Linked DNA regions of Homo sapiens. The protein of the gene in region 2 purifies or fractionates together with the protein of the main gene of each other region. This does not show direct contact. Each region holds a gene or a part of one and is shown on either strand. Other genes may lie near its edges.

Evidence for each region.
Region 1: the proteins of STX16 (region 2) and STX6 purify together in Homo sapiens (affinity purification with mass spectrometry; 2 studies listed by BioGRID and IntAct, with this or other methods). This does not show direct contact.
Region 3: the proteins of STX16 (region 2) and NAPA purify together in Homo sapiens (affinity purification with mass spectrometry; 4 studies listed by BioGRID and IntAct, with this or other methods). This does not show direct contact.
Region 4: the proteins of STX16 (region 2) and VTI1A purify together in Homo sapiens (affinity purification with mass spectrometry; 2 studies listed by BioGRID and IntAct, with this or other methods). This does not show direct contact.

The regions. Positions count from the first base shown.
Region 1 is NC_000001.11:180,972,223-180,977,898, forward strand, and holds the end of STX6 (syntaxin-6), read right to left. Parts: intron 4,425-5,676; coding exon 4,348-4,424; 3' UTR 503-4,347; downstream 1-502. UniProt on the Homo sapiens protein: SNARE promoting movement of transport vesicles to target membranes. Targets endosomes to the trans-Golgi network, and may therefore function in retrograde trafficking.
Region 2 is NC_000020.11:58,668,272-58,675,301, reverse strand, and holds part of STX16 (syntaxin-16), read right to left. Parts: intron 6,012-7,030; coding exon 5,849-6,011; intron 4,791-5,848; coding exon 4,699-4,790; intron 4,149-4,698; coding exon 4,005-4,148; intron 1,672-4,004; coding exon 1,591-1,671; intron 1-1,590. UniProt on the Homo sapiens protein: SNARE involved in vesicular transport from the late endosomes to the trans-Golgi network.
Region 3 is NC_000019.10:47,491,045-47,498,074, forward strand, and holds part of NAPA (alpha-soluble NSF attachment protein), read right to left. Parts: intron 4,553-7,030; coding exon 4,506-4,552; intron 4,101-4,505; exon of another isoform or gene 3,984-4,100; intron 2,558-3,983; exon of another isoform or gene 2,450-2,557; coding exon 2,372-2,449; intron 2,131-2,371; coding exon 2,075-2,130; intron 2,002-2,074; coding exon 1,917-2,001; intron 1,076-1,916; coding exon 971-1,075; intron 1-970. UniProt on the Homo sapiens protein: Required for vesicular transport between the endoplasmic reticulum and the Golgi apparatus. Together with GNA12 promotes CDH5 localization to plasma membrane.
Region 4 is NC_000010.11:112,464,194-112,471,223, forward strand, and holds part of VTI1A (vesicle transport through interaction with t-SNAREs homolog 1A), read left to right. Parts: intron 1-353; coding exon 354-464; intron 465-7,030. UniProt on the Homo sapiens protein: V-SNARE that mediates vesicle transport pathways through interactions with t-SNAREs on the target membrane. These interactions are proposed to mediate aspects of the specificity of vesicle trafficking and to promote fusion of the lipid bilayers.

The DNA.
Region 1 (5,676 bases), on a different chromosome or scaffold from region 2:
ACCCGCCACCACGCCCAGCTAATTTTTTGTATTTTTAGTAGAGATGGGGTTCACCGTGTTAGCCAGGATGGTCTCGATCTCCTGACCTCGTGATCTGCCCGCCTCGGCCTCCCAAAGTGCTGGGATTACAGGTGTGAGACACCGCGCCTGGCCAGTCTAGGGTCTTATGTGACCAGCTGCAGAGTAAGTACCTCTAAGCTATCCATGGTCCCTGCCAGGTCTATAGACTCTACAGAGAGCACCGCTCTCATGGGTTCATGTGTACCTGTCTGGTGGCCTTGTTCCGTGTGTTTAGCCTCTGCCCAAGGCATGGATGAGTTACATGCAGTTAGTGGTGAGATCCTCATGCTGAAGCCAGCCTCTGTGCCCCAAGAAGTCATGGGCTATGATCCAAGAATCTGGGAAGTAGAGGTCTTACCCTCAGGCTTGGGTGGCTCTTTGTTGCATTTTGTGTTATTCTGCTATATGATCATTCTAGTAATTCAGTCCTTTTCAAGTTGAATTCTTTTCAGGTTGTTTTATTTTCCTTTTCCGGAGACTTTTGTACATACTGTTGTCCTGAGTAACAGTATCTCTAAGCTGAGTTACTCTGATCGGAGCTACTGAAAGGTACCTGCTTTCAGCAAATTCTGGTTTGGTTTTATTTTTTAATCAAAAAAAAAAAAAGGAGAGAAAGAAAAGAAAGACCACCCCCTATTAGAAGCAAAGGCCCTGGGAGGAGTAAGGCCTGTCACTGGGGCAGGGGCACTGTCCTCAGGGGCGGACTTTGCTCAGGGATGGCGCACAGTGACTGCGGGGGCTTAAGTCCGGTAACCCTTTGGTTTTATTTCTTTTTATTCTTGATGGGCAAAAAGCCTCCTTTAAAAAACATTATTCTTAAGAAACCTGGGAGAGAAAAAAATGCCAGTGAGAGGAAGACAAAGAAAAATTAGAGGCAGTACATTCCATATTTCAGAACTTTAGCTTTCCAGACAGTCCAATTTTGTTTTGTTTACAAATTCATCTTGCAGTACAAGGTGAAGCCAAATGGTACAAAGTCCACAGAATTGAAAAGCCATTCATATTTATCATTCAATTTTTTGATCTTCAAATGTTATGAATTCTCCAAAAAGGTAACAGGGAACAGATATCCCTTTGGTCTCACTTTATAGACAGGGAAATTACCAAAAGAAAAATCTTGGCTCTACCATCTCTACTTACAGAAGGTAAAACACTTAACAGAGACAGATTTCTGTTGGAGTTAGACTAGATTTCTTTTCACAGCCCTTAATCTCACGAGGTGAGAAGGAGTGGAAGTTGCCAAGTTGTTGGCTACCAGACCCATCAGTCTGTTTAACTCTGGCTAAAAGCAGAGAATAATGGGCAAGTTACCAAGTTTCCCCCTTCAGCTCTGGCGTGCATTCTGAAATTGTGGAAGATCCTCATGTAACACACACGCTGCAACCTGCATTTGCCACACAGTCCAGGGCATATAGAGCATTGTGATTCTTCACAGTCCGCAGAGACAAGACCAAAAATGAGGACTAAAAACTAAAGGTAGCTGAGTTTTTCAGATGGATTTTCACTCTGGCAAACTCAGTAGTTCACTCCCTCCCACCCCTCAAATCATTTAAGTAAAATGTTCTTCCAATAAACATAAATTGAGCTCTTCCTCTGTTATCCATCACATTCTGCCAGTTCTTTAAAACTGGAATATGGTACTAGGTACAGAAGGCTAAAGGGGTAGGAAAGCCCCAAATACTATAAAGATGCACTTATAAGCAGTGTGGGGTTATCACCACTGTCTACTTACTCTCCCATTCTAGGACACAGGGTGAAGAGACCACCTGGGTTCCCTCTAAAGCCCTGAACATTAGGACCACTGAGGAGGAAATATTTGTCCTTAAAAATAAATGTAGGTTCCCTGGATTGTTCTCTTTGGCTGCCACATTTGGAGCCTGAGTGGAGGCCCTTCAAATTAACACTGGTTCTGTAGGGACTGCCCAGTCAGGGTGCAATGGGATCAGACACAGGATCAAATCAGCCAGGGGCAGAAGGGCATGGTGGCCCTACGGGTAGAATGCACTGTATTGTTAGTTAACTTTCTAAATTGTTCTCTATTTAGCTTCAGCCTGAGTCAGGTCTACAATGGCCACTATTTAGAAAATAATTTAAATCAGTGAGGTAAGCACGCCGATTTGAAATATATCCAAACATCATTAAGCCTCTGGGTCATAAAACTTGGTCCCTGAACTAACAGGAGTATCTTACTCATTAATGACTAGGTTTGTTCCAAACGGCCCCTGCTGACACACATGATCCTTTTGTGTGGCACAATAAATCTGGTAATAGCAGAACAATAGCATGGCTTTTAAATAGGGTAATTTTATAATTCCTTAAGATGCTGGTTTGCTTCTTATAATGTGTTGTGTGGATTACAGTACTTAGACAAGGTTCACATTTACTTTAAAAGACTTCTATATTTTAATGCAAATCTAAGGATCATCCCCTTTCTTAGTTTATAGAAGATTCAAACTTTGTAAAACATAAATAACCTAGTACTCTAAACATCTGAAGCCCTTTGTAATACTCACTGTTTTTTCCTAATTTGAAAATAACTTATTTATATATCAAACATTAGAGCGGAGTGTAAACATGGATGTCAATCACCCTTTTAGTTTCATAAATTTGCTTTTAGCTTTCATCAACAGGCATATTTTCTTAACCTACCATGATCTCAAATGAGATAAAATATCCTTCTTCAAAAATTGTTAAGAATATTTATTAAAAAGTGCAATTCAAAAGTTAGCTGGGCAAGCACATCATTGCAAATCACAAAAAAGGGTGAAAAAACCAAAACCCCCAAATAAAACCACATGAAATACAAACAAAACAAAACAAAAAGGTTTAAAAAAAAAGTGTGCTGAGGAATGCACCCAAAAAGACAAGGAAATGAGAAGTCAAAGCTAGAACTCTATCCAGATGTTGCTGTTCTTTCCAAGTGCAAAAGAAGGTGGTGAGGAGAGACCAGCAGCCTCCACCACCGAGTTCTGGCTCTGGGTCCAAATACTACTTTAATATCAGATTATTCATCAGGGAAGTTATAAAAATATCCTATATACATGTGCACATTTGAGGCATTTTAAAAAGTCATCAGAAGGTTAAAGTTTAGTGTCTCAGCAGTTTCAGCTACTTAAACTCAATTAAAGCATCTATCATTTAAATTTGGATTGGCTCAGTTATTTGACTGCAGATGATAAAATCAAGCTGTCATCTTAGGGAAAAAAAAGAACCAAGTTTACCTACACATCCTTGCCATTACCCACAGAGTAAGAGAAGTCTGGCCCAGAGCTAACCTTTTATGTCATTACGTTTCTTAATAAATGTAATAAATGTACTAACCACTCCCAACCCCAACCCCCAGTGTAGAGTGCCCTAAGAGTAAAAGAACTGTAATGAGGACAATCTGGTATCCAAATTCATTCAAGTGTGTTACTGAGCTGTTTAGCAACAACATATGTAGCAATCACCCTCAAAACGCAAGCTGCACCTCTGGGGAGGAAGCCCTGGTACAGCAACATCAAGTCGGCAAGGATCAGGAGCTGACCTGTGGCGACATCATTAACCCTTCCCTAAGCTATGCCAATGCAGAACCCTCTTGCTCTTTTTAATTGCTCCTGTCAGTTAAAGCCACAAGTTGTTAGCACCCCCAAACCCCAGGGTGTTTCATTATTTTCCATTAGTTATTCTTACCACAAAAAAAAATGACCTGGAAAAGCAATTTTATCTTAGCATTTATCCCTGAAAAATGAAACACTGCATTTTCTGTCACAAACTGTTTCTGAGCCTTCTGTCCTCAATAATCATCAGCTCTCAGGGGATAAGAAATGCTACAGCAATGGGAAACGAAACATACCCAGAAGCTCGTATTCCTGACAGGTTTCTTTAGATGGGACAGCGGTGCACTGTCTGAGCACGGGGAAGGGTCTGAGCAGAAGAAAAGAGCTGCCAAAGATGCATGGAATGAGCAACAGCAAAACACCAGTGGAGTCTGTAAGTCCCTCCTCAGCAAACGAGGTCCCGGAAGGCAAGGCAGCAGCTAGTTCTCCTCCGAACTGGACAGGCGGCATGGGGCTTCTGTTGTCCAGCTGCAGCCAGGAGTGCAGACATCTATTTCCTCTTCCCACTGGCCCTTCCAGCGCTGGGATGGAGGAGCCATGTCAATTGTGGGGTCACACGGAGAAAAGTCAGTGCAGCAGTATGTTTCCAGGATAGGAATGTGAGTAGACGGCAATGTCACACGTGCTCAGCTTCTCCTCCTCCCCTCGGTTCATATGCAGGAGGAACTCGCACCCAGAGGCCCCGCCGTCACAGCACTAAGAAGAGGATGAGCACAACCAACAGGACTGCAAAGAGGATGGCTATGGCACACCATTGGCGCCGATCTGGAAGGCAGGACATGGGGATTAGCTCTCACAGGGACTCCACATTCCCCAAGATACAGTTATATGGAATTTATGGCACCCTTTGAAGCAGAAAAGGGGCAGAACGTGCAAATGACGGGGCCATGATCTTACACCTGCCTAGGTGCCTGATGCTCTAATGCTGCTCTGTTCTTGGCCTGCACTTCGCATGCAGTCACAACTTTGCCAGTCCCCTGAAAATGTCTCGTAATAATTACATGCTTTGTGTCTCAAGTCTTTAATTAAAATCTGCGGATCTTAGCTTTCTGCTGGTAGTTAGCATATCCTCAAAAAAGGTGTTGGCAATGGTGTTACAGATCAAAGCCTGCCTGCTTTAATCTCCCATAAAAGTCAAGTCATTTAATTAAACAATAATCACATTCTTTTCTCAATGAGCACAACGGGAGGAGGGAAAGGAGATGAAAGCTACTGCTGGTCACTTCAGGAAATATACAGCTGAAAAAGCAAGCTCCAGTGAGACAGCATGATTAATTTCACACCACACCTAGTCAAGTAAGATTACTTAACTAGTAACTGTGTTAAAGTACCTTGTACAGCTCCTCTGTAAATGAAAGTGGAATTTTTTTTCTGAAACTTTCTGCCCTACCAACAATTTGGAACAGCAGGCACAGGAAACAACTTGACTAGAGTCCATCCAAATGGCTGAGAGCAGGGAGGCCCTGTGAGACAGAAGGGCCCAGACAGGCCCTGGGGGAGCCCTGCTGCAGCTCACAATCCTGTGGTCCCAACTCTACAACAGCTGCCCCGCAGGGCTGTTGTGAGAATTAAACAACACAACCCTGTCATACACACACTGTGCAATACCCAAACCTAGGGCACAGAGGATGCTGTCAACATCAGGATGCTTCCTTAATTTGGAGACATGTAGAAAAAATGAGCAGTCCTTCCACTGATGAGTTTTGGCATCTTCCACAAAGGGCCCGACTGATAACAGAATTCACTAGCGTATGAAAATGCAGTACAACCACTAGGAATAAGAGTTCCATTTAAATAGAAATATAAAGACATATTGATTCACTAAAGTTTCTTTGAAAGCCCACTGATTTTAGCACACTATAGTTATTGAGAATCACGTTGCAAAAAGATCTCAATCTATGAAAATAAACTGCTAAACTCTCCACAAGGCAAAACATGTACTTAAAATTATTTTAAATATTATGGATATCAAAGTCTTAGAACTGGACAAGAGAACTGCCACCAAATTATAAGTAAA
Region 2 (7,030 bases):
AAGGCAGCCCTGGCGAGAATGGCAATCTCTCCTGCTCCATCCCCCGCGGTGGGCTTGTTTCCTAAGTGAGCCTGCCCGCCCACCTGGAGGAGCCCCTCATCCACCAGGAGGAAACATCAGGCACGGGGACAGCACCGAGAGTCCGGTCATGGGGAGCAGCTCCCGACGCTCAATCACCCTTAGACTAGCCGACTGCCGAGCACGCGCGTGCTGCCTACAGCCTTGTGGCTGGAGGGAAGATGGAGCACGCTGACTTTTCTAATAAGTAACCCAGAACACCAGGGAAGCCAATACTAAATAATATACTGTAAAACCTCTCAAAATGATTTATAAAGTAGAACCTAAAACAAAATTTTTAGTTCCCACTAGATTTGCTCACTCCCGCAGAGAAAGCTTTTCCTTTTATCTGTGTTATATTACAAAACATATTTCACTAGTTTTTATTTAAGAAACTTCAAAACCAATGCATAATTCAGCAGCACATCAAAACCTGGGTATTACAGAGTGAGAAACTTAAGTTAGTTTTCACTTTTAATAGACAGGGCTTGGCAACCAAATTAATCTAAATGCTTAAAAAAACCCTGCATAGACAAGGTCAGACTTCTCTTCCCACCACAGGCTGGAGTCTCATATCCACCTACACATGGCAACAAGCCCCCTGAAAAGACAGCTCAGGGCTTCTGGTTAGACTAGTGCAAGGGCTGACTTTTTGTAAACCCAATACTGCTATTAAATGGGGCGATCTCTGGTATAGGAAGCGACTGATTTCAGAAAAATGGTAGAGTAGTCCAACAGTGAATTGGCAAAACACTCATTATATGGCTAGAAACTCCACTGGGTCTCAAAGATACAAGGAAATGGATATTATTTAATTTGTGAAGTATTGTTATATTCCTTTTAAAGAAAATACGTAACCAATTATATATGAGAGTCTCAGCCGTTTATGCATGTTTCTTATAACCGATAAGATTCCTAAGATGCTTTCCATCTATTTTTTTAAAAGAGAATATCATAAAAACATCCCTGAAACAGCTACCTTATTAGCACAGAATAAAAGAATTACTACTCTCACTTCAACAAACTTCTCTTTTCTCAAGGTAATACAGATATGCTGTGGTAATTAAAGAGAAGATTAGATTTTTATCTTCTGCAGAATGATTCTCCATCAGCAATTCATCAGGAATGTATCACAAGAGAGGCCCAAGTCAACGGCAACAAGCAGACAGATTTTCAACACATATTTTAGCAAATGCCCAATTGATTTCCTAAAACAAGAAGCATTAGAAAAGAATGAAATATTTTCTAAAAGAAAGAACTCCAATCTCTTTAGAATTTACTGTCACAAAAAGGAGTTCTTAGCAATTTTGGATTTAAGTGTGAGATACACCTGGAATCATTAACTGCAATAAAACGGCAACAGCCCCCACAATTGGCTTTAAATGAAATGATGAATCCCTTTTTACACTACTGTATTGAGAGTGGACAACACAAGAATGCTGAAGATCGTTATGGTGGAAAAGAACCCTCTTACCAATTCTTGATTATTTGAAAATAGTTCCTAAGATTCCCAAGTCTTGAAAGACATATTACCTTGTGAAGCTGTTTCAAACCATCTTCAGTTTTGATACAGGACTGTTCAACGTTATAGTCAATTCTGTCAAGGACTGTACCCTAGGTAATAAATGACAGTTACAGACAATCAACAATAGCAACTGGGAAAACTGAACGTCAAAAATGAGATATGCAAATTACAGACATCATCATCCATAAGATGATGTTTTCCTTCCCTGTGTGCTGCAGGTACACACGGAGGGCTCTGGAGTTCACCCTCAAGCAGTGTCAGGAGCTCGATGGCAGAATGCTGGTTAGTGCCATCACATCTAGCTCACGAGAAAGAAGTACTGACAGACTGAGGTTTCCTTATTGGTTTCAGCTGCCATAGAAATGCCATATTCGGACTTCCTGGGGCCCTAAGAAATCTATGGTCCAGTGGACAGAGGCTCTGAGCAGCACAGAAGCTCTGCGCCCATTTGCTGCCTACGTACTTGGATTCAAGTAAGCAGAGAACACCAGGTAAGCTCGCCCCTGTCATAAGTAGACCTGCAAATTGACTATCACGTCTATAAACGTGGATCCACATCTCTATGGGTCAGAGCAGGAAATGGTAAACTCCAGTCTACCACCTAAAATTAAAAATTTGGACTCAAGGGGAAGATGTTTAATTGTTTAATCTCTTAAACAATTAAATTGGAAGACGGGGACACTGGGCTATGAGGAAGAACAGAGCTTTTATTGGAAACATGCTGGATTAGAAGAGATAGCAGTTCACTGGGAACCACTGGAGTAATTAATGTAACTGGATCTTCCAGAGCCTGAACACTCCATTCTGCAGTTGGTTTCAGGGGGATCAGGACCCAAATCCCTGCTGGCAAGATAATAAAATGCCCTAATCAGATTTTAACGGTGAACAACAATTTAATTCTACTTGAACGCTAGTGGTTCCAATTGCCATTACACAATAACCTGCCAAAATTAGAAGGGAAATCTTCTATAGCGTCAGAATCATTGCTGAGCTCGGTCAGAGTCAACTAGGTCTCTAGAGTAGGGTGCTCACATGAGTACCCTCGAGGCATGGGAAGAGAATATTAGAACTTCATTTATCAAAAAAAGATTTATTAATATTCTTATAGGGAATGACAGTAGCCTATGTATATAATTTGTAAATACACACATATACAGGCTGAGTATCCCTTATCTGAAAAGCTTGAGACTAGAAGTGTTTTGGATTTGGGATTTTTTTTTTAGATTTTGGAATATTTGCATACACATAATGAGATATTCTGGATGGGACCCAAGTCTAAACACAAAATTCATTAATGTTTCTTATACCTTTATGTTTCATATACCATTAATGTTTCATATACATAGCTTGAAAGTAATTTTATACAATATATATATATATATTTTTTGAGACAGAGTTTCACTCTTGTTGCCCAGGCTGGAGTGCAATGGTGCAATCTCGGCTCACTGCAACCTCTACCTCCCAGGTTCAAGCGATCCTCCTGCCTCAACCTCCCGAGTAGCTGTTACAGGCACCTGCCACCATGCCCAGCTAATTTTTTTGTATTTTTAGCAGAGACGGGGTTTCACCATGTTGACCGCGCTGGTCTCGAACTGCTGACCTCAGGTGATCCATGTGCCTCAGCCCCCCAAAGTGCTGGGATTACAGATGTGAGCCACCGTGCCCGGCCACAATATTTTTACTAGTTTTGTGCATAAAACAAAGTTTTGACTGCAACCTGTCACATGAGGTCTTGTGTAGGGATTTTCCACCTGTGGCATCATGTTAACACTCAAAAAGTTTTGAATTCTGGAGCATTTTGAACTTCATATTTTCTGATTAGGATTGCTATGTATATATATCCTTTGAGTGTCATATTGGCACTCAAAAAAAAGTTTCAAATTTTGGAGCATTTTGGATTTCAGATTAGGAATGTTCAACCTGTATTATCATATATCATATTATTATTGCATTCCTCTCATTTAATCCCTAACAAGCATCCTATGAGGATGGTACTATGATTATTAGTCCCATTTTACAGATGAGAACACTAGAGTCAGAGGGATTAAATGAGAATCATGTAACTGTTAAACTGCTAAGAGCCAGGGTTCCAACATTCCAACCCCCCAGGGCTTTTCTCAAAGCACCACACTCCTCTGATAATTAGCACCCAGGAGACTTCAGTAAAAAATGTAAACACTGAGGTTTCAACACTAGTCCTATTATTTTAAAATTAATCAAATTTAATATTTGATTAATATTAATATACACACACACACACACACACACACACACACACACACCCACACACACATAAAGGACAGGTGCACACACATGTTGGGAAAATTGGCTCCAATTTTTTTCCCTGAAAGGAGTACAGGAAAAAGAAGGTACAGATAGTATGGCAGGAAAACCTATTCACGAGGAAGGCCAGCTCACGTACCTGTTCTACAATCATCGCCCCTAAGTCCCTGAATATTTCATTCAGGTCAGAAATGGACTGTACAATCTGGCGAATCTCTCGTTCCCGCTCTTCCACCATCAGTGTGTTCTGCTCCACCAGAACTAACTGGTCCTCTGTAAAACCCTAGCAAGACAGTGCACAATGTGTTGGATAGATTGTTTTCCCTCTCAGGAAAGCTATGGTATACTTGTTTAGATATAATTTAAAGACAATGAAAATAATTTAAAGAAAATGAATTCTGAAAATATTTCTACAAAGCACAGTAAGCACTCATTTTTCCCTAACAGGAAAGATTCAAATTCCCTAAACCAGCAGGATCTAAAGCTCTGAGGCCATAGCAGGGAAGACAGAAGCCCACGTCTGCCAACTCCACAAGGGCAGATAAACAAAACCCCCGGGATAGCCCTCTGTTTCTCTGGGCTCTTCCTAAGAAGGCAGGGTGTTGACCACTTTCCCAAAGGCTCTGGAAAGCAGATTACAAGGTCTCCCTGTGGCCTTTGGAAAGGAAGAAACAGTACGGCTGTTCTTCCACCTGCTGCAAAACAACCTGATGAATATACAAGTCAACTGTATCAATCCACTGACACTGCACAGAAGATCGAGGTCTAGGAGGTGAAAGATGCAGAATGGGGTGCACAGACACAGCAATCAGCTTTGCAGCCCGTTCACGTACCCGATGGTAAAGAGTGTTATCGTCTCCATCATCCATTAGTGGTACTGATGTGTCGAAAAAATGCTGGGATCTTTCCTCTCGATTCTTCATGCCTATCACAGATAGGAATTCATTTTACTTGAATATGTAAACCATCCTGAGTATTGTTCTACCATTAAAAGGGGGAATTCTAGAGTAAACTCCAACAGTCAAAATTGAGATATTCTTAGCCGCTTTAAAGAAGCCTATCTCCAATGGGGGTGGAGGGAGAGTAAAGGATTACAAACATACAACAATATGCAGGCATTTGGGATTACTCAAGACAAAAGTCACAGTGTAAATGTGCACAATTCACTTGATGCCAAGATAAAAATGACACAACCATCTGAGAATCTCTAAGTGAAGCAGAAATATTTAATCTAACTGCTGTTACAAAACATTTTAAAAAATCAGTATTTCTCTCTAGAAGCATCTCTAGTATGAATTCCATATGGCCCTAATCAAATTTTGGAAATAATAAAATTAAAATACAAATATGCCAGTTGTCAGAGGGAGGGAGAACTAGGTTTTTTGGAGTATGTGGGGACTTTATTGATTGCAAGGGCAATTTTAAAAAACCCAGTTTACAGGGTGATTAGAATGAGAAGAGAGCTGAAATCTGGCTTTGCACTATTTGGGAAGAAAAGGTCTGCTGGGTGAAACCTGTGGTGCCAGCAGAGGAAGTGTTTCAAGGACCCTGGGGAGGTTTTCTCAGGTGCTCTCAAACACTTTGGTTGTTATGCAAATATGTGGCTTTCAGTAATAACAACTGCTTTTTACCTATTGAAGAGCAGCTCTCCCAAACCCCAACATCCAGAAAACAACAGGTTTTTAAAATGTGCTTGGTTGATTTTCAAATTCTTGCAGCTTGACACAAAACAAATTTTGTTTGCTGAGATGCTGAACTATCTTGGTGCCCTCCCCCAGCCTTGGTCGGTACCCCACGCTGTGCCTTCATTCCAAGCCAGGGTTTCACATGGGGAGGAGGCTTCCCTTTACTGTACAAGGTATGAGCATGTTCAAAAGCTAACAATGAAAGGTACTGGACTAAATGAAAAAATAGTGGCAAAAAAGAAAACATAAAGTGCTTTTCTTACTCAAAATCCCTTCACTAGGCCCGGGCAGCACTCACGTTTGAGGTAGCCTGACTGTGCGTGCCGGAAGCTGGTGGAGAGTTCCTGCAGGGCCTGCGCCAGCGAGGCCACCACGTTCCCAAGCAGCCGCCCCTCCTGCTCGGAGCAGGCCCGGGCCCGGCTCGGCAGGGCCTGCACGGCACGCTGGCACCTGTGGAAGAGCTAAGAGAACAAGCCCGAGGCTCAGGGCAAGCCTGGGAGAGAAGCCCCTCTGCTAACACTGCCACATCACAAGCCAGAGTGAGAAGTGAGAGGCTCTGTTCACTCAGTCTGGTTTAGAGAAAGGTGAACAGATAAAAGGAATCTGTGGCTTCATTTATATACACAGAAAGATTTCACTAGATTTCAGCTCCTGCTATGTAGGGCCTGCTGTGTGCCCAGCTGCTCACATATCATCACGTTAGACAGGCTGAGTATCCCTCATCCGAAATGCTTGGGATTGGCAATGTTTAGGATTTCAAATTTCGGGAGATTTTGGAATATTTGCAGAATACCTACTAGTTGAGTACCCCAATCTGAAAATTCGAAATCCAAAATGCTCCAATGAGCATTCCTTTGAGTGTCATATTGGCACTCAAAAGAAAGTTTCAAATTTTGGAGCATTTTGGATTTCAGATTAGGAATGTTCAACCTGTATTATCATATATCATATTATTATTGCATTCCTCTCATTTAATCCCTAACAAGCATCCTATGAGGATGGTACTATGATTATTAGTCCCATTTTACAGATGAGAACACTAGAGTCAGAGGGATTAAATGAGAATCGTGTAACTGTTAAACTGCTAAGAGCCAGGGTTCCAACATTCCAACCCCCCAGGGCTTTTCTCAAAGCACCACACTCCTCTGATAATTAGCACCCAGGAGACTTCAGTAAAAAATGTAAACACTGAGGTTTCAACACTAGTCCTATTATTTTAAAATTAATCAAATTTAATATTTATAAAAAATTTTTTCTAGGATACTAAGTTGTTTTTTCAATTATGAGGACTATAATTTAGCATTGAAATTTCTTAACACTAGTATACGATATTAGTTATACATTTTAAAATCAAATGATTGAACTCGATAATGTTTGAAATTTCATATTTACTTAATCCGTCCACAGCAGTTATCTGCCAACAATTGAAAAACAGTCCCCATACCTCCAAGGCCTCACAGGTACCTACGCTGACAGCTGG
Region 3 (7,030 bases), on a different chromosome or scaffold from region 2:
TGGCTGCAGAGATGGCTGCAGGGAGAGGTGGGTGGAGGGGGAAGGTTCCCCAGATAGGCACCCACTGCCTCCTCCCACCTGGCTCAGCTGGGGCAGGGGACAAATGAGCACATCCTCCATGCCAGGCCTGGGGCTGGTGCTTCTTGAGGACCCTGAGAGGGTCAAATGACGGTGAGCCCCCTTTTCAAAGTGAGGAAACAGATCCAGAGAGGGGCAGTGACCTGCCCAGGGCACGGTGAGACATGGGGTGGGAATGGGAACCTGGTCTGACAAAGCCCAAGCTTTTGCCCACCACCGGTGCCCACAGCAGGGCAGGGCTCTGTGGGGTGTGTGTGTGTGGGGTGTGTGGGGCCACCACCCCAGGCCGTGAGCCAGGGACACCAGGAAATCCTGGACTCCGTGCTTCTGCCAGGCAATGGTAAAAAAACTCCGGCCAAGCAAAATCTAGCGCCAACCCTCCAGCTCCTTCCCGCTGGCCACGCCCCCTCCCACTGCCCTCTTTGGCCCCTCTTTTGCCAAGTGTCCTGAAAATAGGTGGGCATGTGTGAGCTACAGCTAAAGCCACGACAGCAGGAGTCACAAAGATCTGGAACACTGGGGCTGCAGGTCCCTAGTCATGTGGCCTCAAACAAGGGACTCTCGTCCCAGCCTCACCATCTTCACCCATAAGACGCGGTGACAATGGTGCTGACTTTAATGGGGTGCAGTGAGGATTCAAAAAGTGCACCCATGAAGGAAAGAGCACTAAGTGAGGCAGGAGCTGGACCCGCAAAAGCCTCCAGGGCTGGGTGGGCAGGTGATGCCAGCACAGAAACACAGCTGTGAGAACCACACTTCTCATCCAAAGGCTGGCTGGCAGGGGCCAGACGTGAGGGAGGAGCACGTCCCTCTTCGGGGGCAACGGGACCTGGCCTGGAGATAAGCACATGGTGGCCTGGTGCGGTGGTCCTGCGGGCGTGGGGTGTGCTACCTTGGCGTTGAGCATGTCGATGCAGAAGTGGCAGAGGGCCGCCTTGAAGAAGTAGTCTTTGGCGCTGTACTTGAGGAGGGGGCTGTCCATGGCATTGGTCCCCACCTGTAGCCATGGAGAAGTGGCACTGGTGAGCTCAGGGCAAGCAGCCAGAGGGCCAGAGCCACTGCCAGGCACTGGGGGGCCAGCTGGGAGCTGGTTCATGTCCCGAGGTGAGGCCCTGTTAACCCAGGACCCCAAGGGCAGGGAGCCAGGGACCAGCTTGGAGAGGTCAGCGGCCAGTGCGTGAGCGACCAAGATCAGGGTGTGATGGTGGCTGGGTGGGGGTGGAGGCTGTAGCCAGGTGTTCGTGGGCCTTCTGAGAGCCTGAGACAGTGGGAAGGAGGCAGCCTGGCTGTCAGGACCAACGGGAGGCTGGCATGGCGGTGGGCAGAGCGGCGGCAGGCGGTGGGAACATGAGAGGCGGCGCCCGCCCCTCTCTCCCAGGGGGCCAGCTGCCTGCCTTTTTCTCGGCCATCACCCAGGGCTCCGTGCACGCTGGGGGGACCCCATGTGACACTCCCTCCCTCCCACTGTGGATGAGGACCATCGGGCCATGGGGTGGGGTGCCCACGGCCACCCTGGGCCTCTTGGCACTTCTTCCCATTCCCTCCCTCTGGGTTCTTTAGCCAGCCTCACTCTGGGCCCCTCCAGGAAGCTCTGCGAGGGGTGTGGGAGGGGCACAGCCAGGGAGAGAGACGGTGCTGGCACGGCATGGAGTCGTAGGTGGAGAACATTCAGCCAGGCTGAAGACAGGGTGGGGGGATGACATGGCAAGGGATGTCGGGGGAGAGGCAGAGGGTGAGCCGGGGGAGGGGTGGTTCCAGAACAAGGTGCCGGGGCTTAGGAGGAGGCACAGGCCCTGAGAGGGGGCAGGGTGGAAGCCGCCATCCCCACCTGTCCCCACCTGTTCGTAGATGTCAATGGCCTTCTGATACTGCTCCAGCAGCGCAGCGTAACCAGCCACCTTCAGCAGACACTTGTTGGCTGAGCTGTGTGGGGAGGAGTAGTGAGGGGAAGTGGTGGCGGTCCCTGCGGGGCTGGGGCAGGCAGGAAGGGGGCTACCTGTTGGACTCCTCGCCTTTGTAGTAGTCTGCAGACTGCTCGTAGTGGGCAATGGCCTGGGGAGACACGGGGGATGGGTTCCAGGGGAGGGCAGGGAAGGGAGAGGAGGCCTCCGTGAAGCTTCCACACCCTCCGCCCTGCCTGCCTGGGACACAGCCAGACCCCATTCTCCAAGCTCTGCCGGCGCCCCATGCCCCCTTCTCGGCACTCAGACACCAGAGGACTCCCCTGGTGGGAAGAAGAGAGAGCAGCACTGGTCCTGGCTGCCAGCCCATGCAGGGCCCTGCTGCCACTCACCTTCTCGATGTCCACCAACTCTGTCTCATAGATCTCAGCAATGGAGATGTGGTGCTTGGCCGCAATCGTGAATCGGCCCTGGAGGGGACACAGGAAGGGGCTGCCTGCGACTCATGACCTCCTGCGTGCCTGCCTGCTGACCTATGACCCTTCAAGTTCCCACCCCTCAGCCACGCCTGTGAGGAGGTATGAAGAAGACCTGAGGTGTGAAGAAGATCGAGAGGTGGGGGAACACAGGAGTGAGAAGGGAGGGCCCCAGCACTAGAGGCCTGGCTATGCGTGCTGGGCTGAGCGGGTGATGTTGGACAAGCCACTCCAGGGCCTTAGCCTAATTCCATCCCATCCACGAGGGCACAGATGGTGTGACACCAGAGAGAATGTGAGCACGAGCACTTGGCCAAGGCCCTGGCCCTTAGGAAGCCTCTGATAACAGCCAGAGAGGCGGAAGGACCAGTCCAGAGCCACTTGGCAAAGGGCTCTGGAGAAACCAGGATGGGAGGGAGGGCTTGAGACCTCTGCCCAAGAGTACCAGCTCTGCCCCCAGGCCAACACCTATCTGTCAGCCTCCCCCAGGCACACCCAGAGCTCCCCAGGGAGGCCTCAGGTTCCAAGGGGCCTCGCACCTTCCATCCGCCTCCACCCAGTGTCCAGGCGCTTGCCTAACTGCTCTGCACCAGGGGCTGGTCCAACGCCACCCCCTTGCTGAGGGCAGTAGGAAAGGGCAAGGCCCTGGGCTCAGCCAGACCTTGTTTCGGGTCTCAGTGACTCCTGCTTGTAGCCACATGTCCCTGGGCAAATCATGTCACTTGTCTGAGCCCCTCTCCTCCACTAAGGAACGGGGATGACAATAATGCCAACCTCACAGGGCTGTGGATTAAACCACCCTGCAGTGTCTGGCCTAATAAATGGCAGCTGCTATTATTGTTCTAATCACAGTCATCCCTGCAGCACTGCCCTGAACGCAAGGGGTAGGGCTCGTGTCCCTGCCTGGGGTTGGAGGGCTGAGACAGACAGGGCAAGCGGAGAGGCAAAAAGGAGCTGGCCAGGCACGGTGGCTCATGCCTGCAATCCCAGCACTTTGGGAGGCCAAGGCAGGTGGATCACTTGAGGTCAGGAGTCTGAGACCAGCCTGGCCAACATGGTGAAACCACATCTCTACTGAAAATACAAAAATTAGCCAGGCATGGTAGCACACGCCTGTAATCCCAGCTACTCGAGAGGCTAGGGCACGAGAATCGCTTGAACCTGGGAGGCAGAGGTTGCAGTGAGTGGAGATCACGCCACTGAACTCCAGCCTAGATGAGAGAGAAACTCTGTCTCAAAAAAAAAAAAAAAAAAAAAAAGAGAGAGAGAGAAAGCACTGACAGGAGCCCCGGCCTGGGTGGGACCCTTCACTCTGGCTCCAGTTGGCAGCTGCCCATCTGGTCTGCATCTGTCGTTGGCAACGCGCCCTGGGGGCAGGGCAGGTGCTGAGCCTCCTGTGGGCTCTGCCTATCCCTGTGGCCTGCTGCAAGATGCTTATCAAATGTGACACTTGCGGGAAGGCTGGGCAAGGGGAAGTGCCGGACACACACTCTCCAGTAACCTAATTTCTTTTTTTGTTTTGAGACAGGGTCTTGTTTTGTCGCCTACGCTGGAGTGCAGTGGTGTGATCACAGCTCACTGCAGCCTCAACTTCCTGGACTCAAGCGATTTTCCTGCCTCAACCTCCCAAGAACTAGGACCCCAGGTGCATGCCACTACACCAGGCTAATTTGTTGTAGAGAGGAGGTCTTGCTATGTTGCCCAGGCTGGTCTCGAACTCCTGTGCCCAAAAGATCCTCCCACCTCAGCCTCCCAACATGCCAGGATTACAGGCATGAGCCACCCTGCCCAGCTCAATAACCTAAGTTCTATGAATGAAAACCATGACTGCCTGTGGAGTGAGGGGGCCGTCAGGCTGGTGGGGAGCTGGGTGAAGACCCAGCCAGCCCAGGCCAGCTCAGGTGACCTAATCCCCCCAGCTCCCACTTCCCCCTCCCCAAGTGGTTTGGCCGCAGAATAAGAACAGTGCTGGGGGTGCTGAAAGAGGGGACGCAAGGCTGGGGCAATGCAGTGGGACCCGGGGGTGTCAGGACAAGCAAGCAGCCCTTACCATGTCTGTGTAGATCTCGATTGCTCGCATCAAACAGTTAATGGCCTCTGGAGAGAAAGGGAGGTGGGAGGAGACATGAGAAAGTGAAGTCGTTTCAGCAGAAGCTGAGGAGAGGAGGCGGACGCAGGCGCACCTGGCTGCCAGCAGAGAGATCAATAGGCGCTCAGAGCTGCCAGCGCTGCCACACACTCTCAAGGGGCTGGGAAGAAGGGGACGGAATCCCTGAGCCCCAGGAAATCTGGTGAGAGGGCTGACTCTGCAGACTGTGACTTGCTGGGCACATGCTTCTGGGGGAGCCCTTCTCTCCTCGGGCTGCCAGGATGCTACCAGCTTCCCACAACCCCAGGGACAGGGCACAGCAGTGCTAGGCCAGGATGATGGCCAGACTCCCACGGTGTTTTAAGACAGACCTGCCAAGGCCCTGCTCTTGAAGGACTGAGCTGCTGGCAAAGGGGAAGGAGGCATGGGAGGCGGCCAAACCAGCATCTGAGGTGGTCTTGGAGGCAACAGGGTGCCAGGTTCTACCTGGGCTCTGCCACCATCTCTGCAGGATCCTGAGCAGCTTCTGCTCCTGCACCAGGAGGACCTGGACCTCTGGCACGAGGAGGCTGGATGTCATCAACACTGAGCCCTCAGTGTGCTCTCCACTGCCCCCTCTTCCTCGTAGCTCAGCAGTCGGGAGCCCTCTGCTCAGTCCCTTTAACCTAGTCCTGCCACCCACCAGCTCCTCAAAGGTTTTGCCAAAAAACCTGAACACACCAGGATGGCACTGAGGAAGAACTGGGCTACCTTTGTTGTACTATCTCTTGCAAGATTTTAAATTTGGGAAAGGCTTTTTTTTGACAAGTTATTTGGAGGAGAGAGAAAAGCATGAGTGGGAGGCATTTTCTAGCAGACAGAAATGAGCTCTCAGGGGGTATTTTTTAAGAACACCATTTTAGCACATCTCAGGAGGACAGGGGTGTTGTGGGGAGGGAGGCCTGGGTTGGGGAGAGGGAAAGGCAGGGAGCTTGGACAGGCCACAGGGCATGGGCTCTGAGCTTCAGCCTGGGCATCTGAAAGTTCCTGGTCACCGTGGGGGTCTCCATGGTCACCCAGGCCATGTTCGCCTGAGAAGAGGGTGCTACCAAGAAGCGCCGGGGCTGGGCTCCTCTCAAGGGGCTCACGGTCTGGATGGGACTCCAAACTCCCTCCGTGGGGAGGCATCTGGACAGAGGCTCTTTGTCTCAGGTCTGTGGCTGGGCTTTCAGGGAGTCCAACCCCTCCTTCTGACATGTAAACAGTGGGGTCCATAAGCACTCCTCTGGGGAGTGGGGTCTGTAGGTTTTGTCCAATTCAGAAAGACCTCTGGGGATCTAAAAGGGACTGAGAGAAGGTACAGCACTCAGTCCAGGTTCTAGGGCTGACAGACCGAGACTGTGGCAGCAGACAGTGGAAACGGTGGCAAAAAGGGGGCAGATGAGGAGGAAGGGGAGAGAACACAACCTAAATCCGGCAGTTTGAAGACACATACATCCTGTAATCGGCGGACCCAGAAGCAACGGCTAAGCCGGGCCACGCTGCAGAGGAGAGCAGCAGCTGGAGTGAGGTGAGAGGCCCGCCTTGCCCCGCCCCACCTGGCTGCAGTCTCCACATGGAGGCCCCGGGCTGCTCACTGGTTCACTCTCCTGGCCGGAACACCCAGGACACCAACCTGGCACCCTGTGGGCTGAGGCGGCAAAGGCTGCTGCTCCGCAGTGAGCAGTGAGATCTGCAGCTGCCACCTGGGCCTGCTGGCACTGGCTCTGGAGCACCCGCCGTCAGCATGGCACAGTCCTTGCAGTAGCAGCAGGGAGACAGCTTACCCCCCAGGCAGCAACATGGACTCACGGGGTTAAGTCCCCTCCATGTCTGGAAAGCGGCGGGCCACCAGCAGACACCTGGGACAGCTGGCTCCTGGACGAGCTTCTGACACACTCATGACTGCTACTCTTATCTCAGGTCACCAGGCCTTGTGCACTCGGACAGGCAGAGCAACACCCAGTTCTGTGGCCTGGCCCCTCCTGTACCCACCCACAGAGGGCTGGAAAGGGGCTCAGAGCAATACAGCCCAAGTTGGGGAGCTATGGCCCAGGCCACCGCCCATCCCCGCAGTCACTCCTACCAGCGACGCCCAACCTGACTTCTGCGTCTCTGAAGCCCTTCCTGGTTACACTTGGTCATCTCCTCCTTAGTAAAATGGGGGCAAATCACAGAATGCACAAAGAAATCAAATGGGTTAAAAGATGCCAAGCATCTGGTACACAGTAGAAACCCAGTAAATGGCAGCTGGGGAGGAAGTGGGGGACAAGCAGGGGCCAGGTCGCTTCTCTGCCCCAGGTACACACACTGCCCCCACCCCCAACTATCAGGCAGGCCTGGGAAGAGGCCTCGCTGGCCCGAGTCTGCCCTGAGCAGCAGCCATGGTTGGGTAACTGAGGAACCAATAACACATATGAGCATCACCCTTCCCCACCCAGAGCCACCAAGGTGGCAGCAGGCCACCC
Region 4 (7,030 bases), on a different chromosome or scaffold from region 2:
CGCCATGTTGCCCAAGCTGTTCTCAAACTCCTGACCTCAAGTGATCCACCCACCTTGGCCTCCCAAAGTGTTGGGATGATGGGCGTGAGCCACGGCGCCTGGCCAAATGTATATGTTTTAACAAAGCATGTACTTGAGCACAGTGTGTGTCACTTGGCAAGTACTCAGAATTGTTGAACTAAAGAAAAATTAAGTGTAAAAGTAGTTTCAGTGTTATTTGATCATTCAGCACCCTGAACCTGGTGCCTCAACTACAAAATGAGGAACTGGAATTAGATCCTTTCAGCCGTAAACATTTGTTCAAATAAGAATAACAGTGTGTTTTAAATCACATTTTTCTTTCCCTCTTCTAGCTTGAACAGATGGATTTGGAAGTCCGAGAGATACCACCCCAAAGTCGAGGGATGTACAGCAACAGAATGAGAAGCTACAAACAAGAAATGGGAAAACTCGAAACAGATTTTGTGAGTCAAATTCGACCCTTTGTCATATTTACTTTTTTTTAAAAATGTTTCCTCCTCATGCCTCAGTCAGCATTAAATGCACAGTCTTTTGGGCTCATGTAGAAGACAAGTAACAGCTTTCATTCTTTATGAGTTAGGGATCTAAAAAATGGTTATAGAGATAGCTAATGGTGGAATTTAAGGTATGTTGGATTAATGATTCACAAATAGATCCAAATCATGCGGCCCTTTGAGTCTGAATGGTATTTACTGATACTTAACATTTATTAAAATTTTGAAACTCAGTTTCTGGCCTTTCAGGGTTTGGAGCCTTTAAGAGGCAGCCTGTACATTTGCAGCTTCTGGACTTCAGGGGCTCATAGTCTCCTGAAAGCATATCTGTATTTTTGGATGCATGTTTCCATGTGTATTTTTCCCTGGGATAAACTCCATAGACTTTATTAGATTCTTAATAGGATGTATCATACCCTTCCCCCAAAAGATAAAAGAAACCACTTTCAATTGACAGTTTATATGTGATCCTTTTTATTAATTGCCCATGAGAATATGTAGCTGTCTCTTCCTATATATCTGGCTTTCAACCGTATCTGCTTTATAGCAAATTTAAGAATATAAATGTAAAGACATAATGTTAAAGTTGTTAGTAATTAGAAATTAATAGGAGTAGAAAAGATACAGCTGAGTAATTCCACTCCTGAGTATATGTCCAAAAACAAATTGAAAGCAGAGTCTCAGAGAGAGATCTGCACATCCATATTCATAGCAGCATTTTCACAATAGCAGAGAGGTGGAATCAACCTAAGCATCCATTGTTAAATAAATGGATACACAAAATGTGGTATATCCACACAATGGAATATTATTCAGCCTTAAAAAAGAAAGGAAATTCTGTCACATGCAACAACTTGAATGAACCTCGAAGACATTATGCTATGTGAAATAAGTCACTCACAAAGACAAATACTACATAATTCCACTGATATGAGGTATCTAGAGTAGTCAGATTCATAGAAACAGAAAGTAGAATGGTAGTTACCGGGGACTTGAGGGGAGGGAGAAATGGAGAGTTGTTTCATGGGCAAAGAGTTTCAGTTTTGCCAGACTGAAACTTACAAAAATTTCTGGAGATTGGTTACTCAACAATGTGAATATATTTAACACCACTGAACCATACACTTAAAAATGGTTAAAATGGTAAATTTTATATTATGTGATTTTACCGCAATTAAAAATAAAAAGATACAGATAAAAAGTATTTTAAAAACCCTGCTAATGATAAAAGAACAAAGAAGTTAACACAATAACAACTAACTGTTCTTATAGGCTGGCACAGGAAATTAGGTTTTCAGCAAATTAATGAAATTTCATATGACTCACTTTAAAAAATAAAAAGATACAGGCGAGGAAAGATCTGAGCCTTACCTATGAGCAACAGAAGTCATGTGTTGGGTGATAAATCAGCTGTATTTCTGAATCTGGGGCCCAAATTCACAAGGAAAGTCAAGAATGTTTAAGGATCTTTCCGCCTCAGTTCTTGCCTTAGGTGTTTTGCTTTTGGAGGGTACAGCTTCTAGGCTACCGTATACCTTTCCACTGTAAGACCAACATCAATGGACCTGGTAGAAATCCCTCCTAGAGTCTGAAAATAGGGTGATTTGCAGTTATGCATGCTTGTTTTGTATGTGAATGGCTACTATCTTGATAAGTTGAGGTGGATCACATCAATAACTCTGATGCCTTTTAGACTGGGCTCCTATTAATTAAAAAAAATTAAAACTCATTATGGGCCCAAATTGATAAAATAAATATATATGCCTAAGTATGTGCCCTGTACTAGGGTAACATTTTCTCCAACTGCTTTGTGAAAGGCTAGTTTTTCTCAGTAAAAATATGAAATATAGTGAGAAAATTGGATTAAGAACTTGACAACTCAAATTTATACTGAGAAAATTCTACCTGAAGTTAAAGTTTCAATATAAATGATGAAAGCAAAATAACATGTTTATAAAGATTGTTTTAGCTTGCTTACCTCATTTTTAATGGAACTCTTTTCTGAAGATTTTTCTTATGGGTTCTAGAAAAACAAAGGGTATGAATTTGCTAGGGCTGTGACAACAAAGTACCACAGACTGGGTGGCTTAAACAACAGAAATTTGTTTTCTCACAATTCTGGAAACTGAAGTTGGAGTTCAAGGTGTTGGCAGGTGTGGTTCCTTTTGAGGCCTCTCTCCTTGATCTTTAGATGGCTTCTCCCCATGTCTTCATATGTCTTCCCTCTTCACGTTTCCATGTCCCTATTTCCTCATATAAGACATCAGTCGTATTGAATTAAGGCCCACACGAATGACATCATTGTAATGTAATCACCTCTTTGAAGACCCTATCTCTGGACAGTCACATTCTCAGTATGGGAATCAAGACTTCAGCATATGAATTTAGAAGAGACACAATTCAGTTCATAATGTTTAGGTCAGTTTTAATCTTTTATTCTTAATTTTTTTTTCAGAAATTAAATTATTTCTGTGGCTTATAAGTCAGCTAACCCAACCTTTAGTCTTTTTTGTTTCTCAAAGAGTACAATACTGGGCAAAGTCCTTTAGGTATTTGGAAATTGTATACTTGGATAAGTGTTCCTTTCTGGGCTATATTTTCTATTATAAAGAAAAATGGAACCAACAACTATGAAACTAAAAATTTATTCTCTAGGCCAGGGATGTCCAATTTTTTAGCTTACCTGGGCCACATTGGAAGAAGAATTGTCTTGGGCTACACATAAAATATCCTAACACTGATGATAGCTGATGAGCTAAAAAAAAAAATAGCAAAAAACCTCATAATATTTTAGGAAAGTTTATTAATTTGTGTTGGGCTGCAAAAAGCCATCCTGGGCTGCCTGCAGCCTGCTGGCCATGGGTTGGACTAGCTTGATATAGGCTATCATTAACAATTCATGTATTTATATGTATATTTGCTACCACAGCTTTCTTCTACCATGTTAGGAAACATCTTTCACCACCACTACTTCTATTGAATAGGGATTTACAGTTTGTAAATTACTTTAACATACATTATTTCATTTCATTGTGTGAAGAATAGACAGAGCAGGTATGGATTACTATCCTCATTTACACATGATAGAACAAAGAGGCTTAGATTAATTATAGATTTCATTCAACAAGAGTTTCTTGAGTACTATGGTGTGTCAGGCACTGTCCGAGGTGCTAGAATGCAGCAGTGGTGAACAAGATAAAGTTCTACTTGTCATATAGTTTAAATTATAGTGGGGGAAAAAATCTAGTGGGAAAGACAACAAACAAATACATACACATTATAATTTCAGGTAGAGATACATTATGTAAAGTGAATAAATGAATAGAGAGTGACCAGCAGGGTGATTGTGGCCATTTGTGCTTGGGTGTTCTCTACAGTTGAAGAGAGAGGAAGAAACGTGTGTGTGCTTGCAGAGAAAGCAGAGGAAAGATCTGTGAGGGCATTGTAGGCCGTGGTAAAGACCTTGGCTTTTACTCTGGGTTGCAGAAAGGCCACCGGAGGACTTTGAGAAGTGAACGGTCCTTCGACTCCTGTTTTACAGCTTTGTTCATTTTACCACACCATCTCACATGGTATATTTGAATAGAGTGTAGAAAATATTGACATAACTCCCTTGTTTTAATCATTATTTCTTTTATAGATCTAATCTTTTTTTTAAATGAATGGAGAATATTTAAAGATATTTGATAACTTTCGTATGCTGACATGCCATACCTAGAAATACTGAATTTCAAGAAAGGCTAGCAGAGATGGTTCTTCAGCTCTGTGTTTATTGCAGTTGAAGCCGTTCTTCTGTTCCACTTGTAATAGCAAGACTTCAGGGGAGCATTTATGCCCATGGGGAGGGGCAGAGGACAACTCAATACTGTTTTCTTTGACTCGTTTGTCCACTTGCTTTCTTTCCCCAGCCGTTCCTTCTCCTCTGCCTACCCTTTGGATGCCTGGATCCTTCAGGCTTCCTCAGTACTTACTCCCATAACCTCCTCTGTGTGTTATCATCTTTCCTGTTCCTTCCATGGCTGCGTCTATACTGACTGGTATTTGTAGCCCAGACCTCTTGGTAGTTCTGGGTTTATATTTCTTACTATTTATCCCAGAGTCTTTTAAACACACTCAGATTCAACAAGTACTGGTTACTTCAGAGTTATCGTTAATTTTTCAACCTTGTACATCCACTGGGTCACTGAGAATTAGCAGATCTACCACCTAAATATCTCTACTACTGAAAGCCTTCATGGTTTCTCTATCTGGATAATTGTAGTACTATTTCCTGATTCTGTTCTTCTGTCATTCAAAACCCTGTACACCATTCCATAATTAGCTTTTGAATACACTGATCTGTATATGTCATGCCATTACACAAAATCCCAGAGTCCTCATTGCCTGCTGAATAAAATCCAGGTCAATTTCTAGGTATTCTATCTTGTTCCATTGCTTCTTCACGTGTCTAATAATTTTATTATAGTATACTTGCTGTTATGGCCTCTATGTTGTTATAAAGCCTAGATTTTATTGTTATTTTTTAGAACAGCACAGCTCAACCTTTTTTTTCATTATCACTTCTCCAAGGATACTTTTTAGACATGTTTTTCCTAATCGTCCCACTCCTTCCCCTATTAAATTTTAATACCACTGATATTCTGTATCTGTACATCTGTTCATGTACTATGGCTCCTTGGAGGGCCACACATCTTTGTAATATCTTAAGATTCATCATACTCCCAAGAACTAATTTTTGCCTCTGTGGACATGATATTGCTCCTGTTGACAATGCATGCTTTAGACCATGAGAGGCTTTATTCAGACAGTTAGATAATTTACTGGCAAATCAGATTGGTCCTTTCAGAGTTTATTGTTAGACTTTTTAGAACACATTTTGAGTAGCCCTACTTTTATGATTTGGCCTTTCTTGGGTTCCTTTTGAATGACTGTAGTGTTTAATAAGTGCTCTCTCGCCTATGTTTGTTTGGAATTCCATCTCTCTGCCCTGGGCAACCTCTAAAATATCCATTCAATCCATTACTCCCCAGTAGCTGTTCTCTGTGAGACCTCGTGGGGTCCCATCCTCTACATATGCAAGTTCATTTTCAGCCAAAGACTTAGGGGACCACTTTCTCGATTTCTGGAGCTCCTTCTCTTTGTGGCTGCTTCTCACCATTACCCTGCTATGTTTGATGATGCATCCCAGCAGTCCTAACTCCAGTGTCTGCCTCCTAAGTTCAGTGACTTGCTGCACTCCCTGTGGGCTCCCCCTCCGTGTGCTGCAATTGGGAAAGTGCCTCCAGGCTGAGAGCCATGCGGGGCTCATTTCACATGTTTTTCTTCTTTAAGGAATTACGCTCCTCCACTGCTTGTTGTCCAACTTTGGAAAATAATTGATTCATCCATTTTGTCCGTGTTCACAGTTGTGTAGAACAGGAGGGTTTGTCTTGTACCAATTACCCCACCATGGCAGGAAGTGAAAGTTCAGTGTAGATTTAATGTTTCTTAATTCCTTAACAGATAATTTTATATATCAGAGAATGAAAAATAATAGTCTGCTGTTTACTGTTGAAACTTTCCCTCTCAAGGGTTGAGTCGAAGTATGCTAAAATGAATTGACACTGGACAGATTAATGGGAAAAACCAAACAAAATGTATTGTGTGCGTAAGTACAGGGGCCACACGCAAAGTAAGAGACTCAAAGTAGGGCCACATAACTGAAGCTTTTATACTGTAGTGCAGAAAAGCATAGAGATTTGGAGTGTGGGAACAGGTTTTCAGAGCAAGAACGGAGGAAGGCAAGCAAAGGTTGTCTTGGCTCTGCTGTTGGAGCCTGGCAGGCAGCAGCCCCCTGGAAGAATGGATGGGAGCCTGTGGAAAAGCTTCCTCTGTTACCTTTAAAAGTGCTGGGTGCGGTGGTTCATGCCTGTAATCCCAGCACTTTGGGAGGCCGAGGCAGGCGGATCACTTGAAGTCAGGAGTTCACATACCAATGTTCACATACCAGCCTGGCCAACATGGTGAAACCCCATCTCTACTAAAATTGCAAAAATTAGCCGGGCATGGTGGCGCACACTTGTAATCCCAGCTACTTGGGAGGCCGAGGCCTCCCTTGAACCCAGGAGGCCGAAGTTGCAGTGAGCTGAGATCGCACCACTAAACTCCAGCCTGGGCAACAGAGCGAGAGACTCAGTGTCAAAAAATAAAATAAAATAAAAAAGCATCAGACTTTCAGTCTCCCTTTCCTGTGAGTTCATCTTTCCAAGATCTGGGTAAAGCCAATACGGGTCAGGGTGGGGGCGCTCAGAGAAAGCCTGTTTTGCATTTGCTGTTTACTTAACTAATATTGATTTCCTCTACAAATGCAAATCTCCAGCTTTTCAGAGCCATTTTTGTGTTTGTAGCCCTTCTGAATAGCTATCTCAAAAATACACCAAAGAAGTATATTTTGGGGTGGCATATTTTGGTTTTCTTCATTACGGTGGCTTATCATAGAATATAATTTGTAGCTGACTAAATACCTGTTTAAAGGA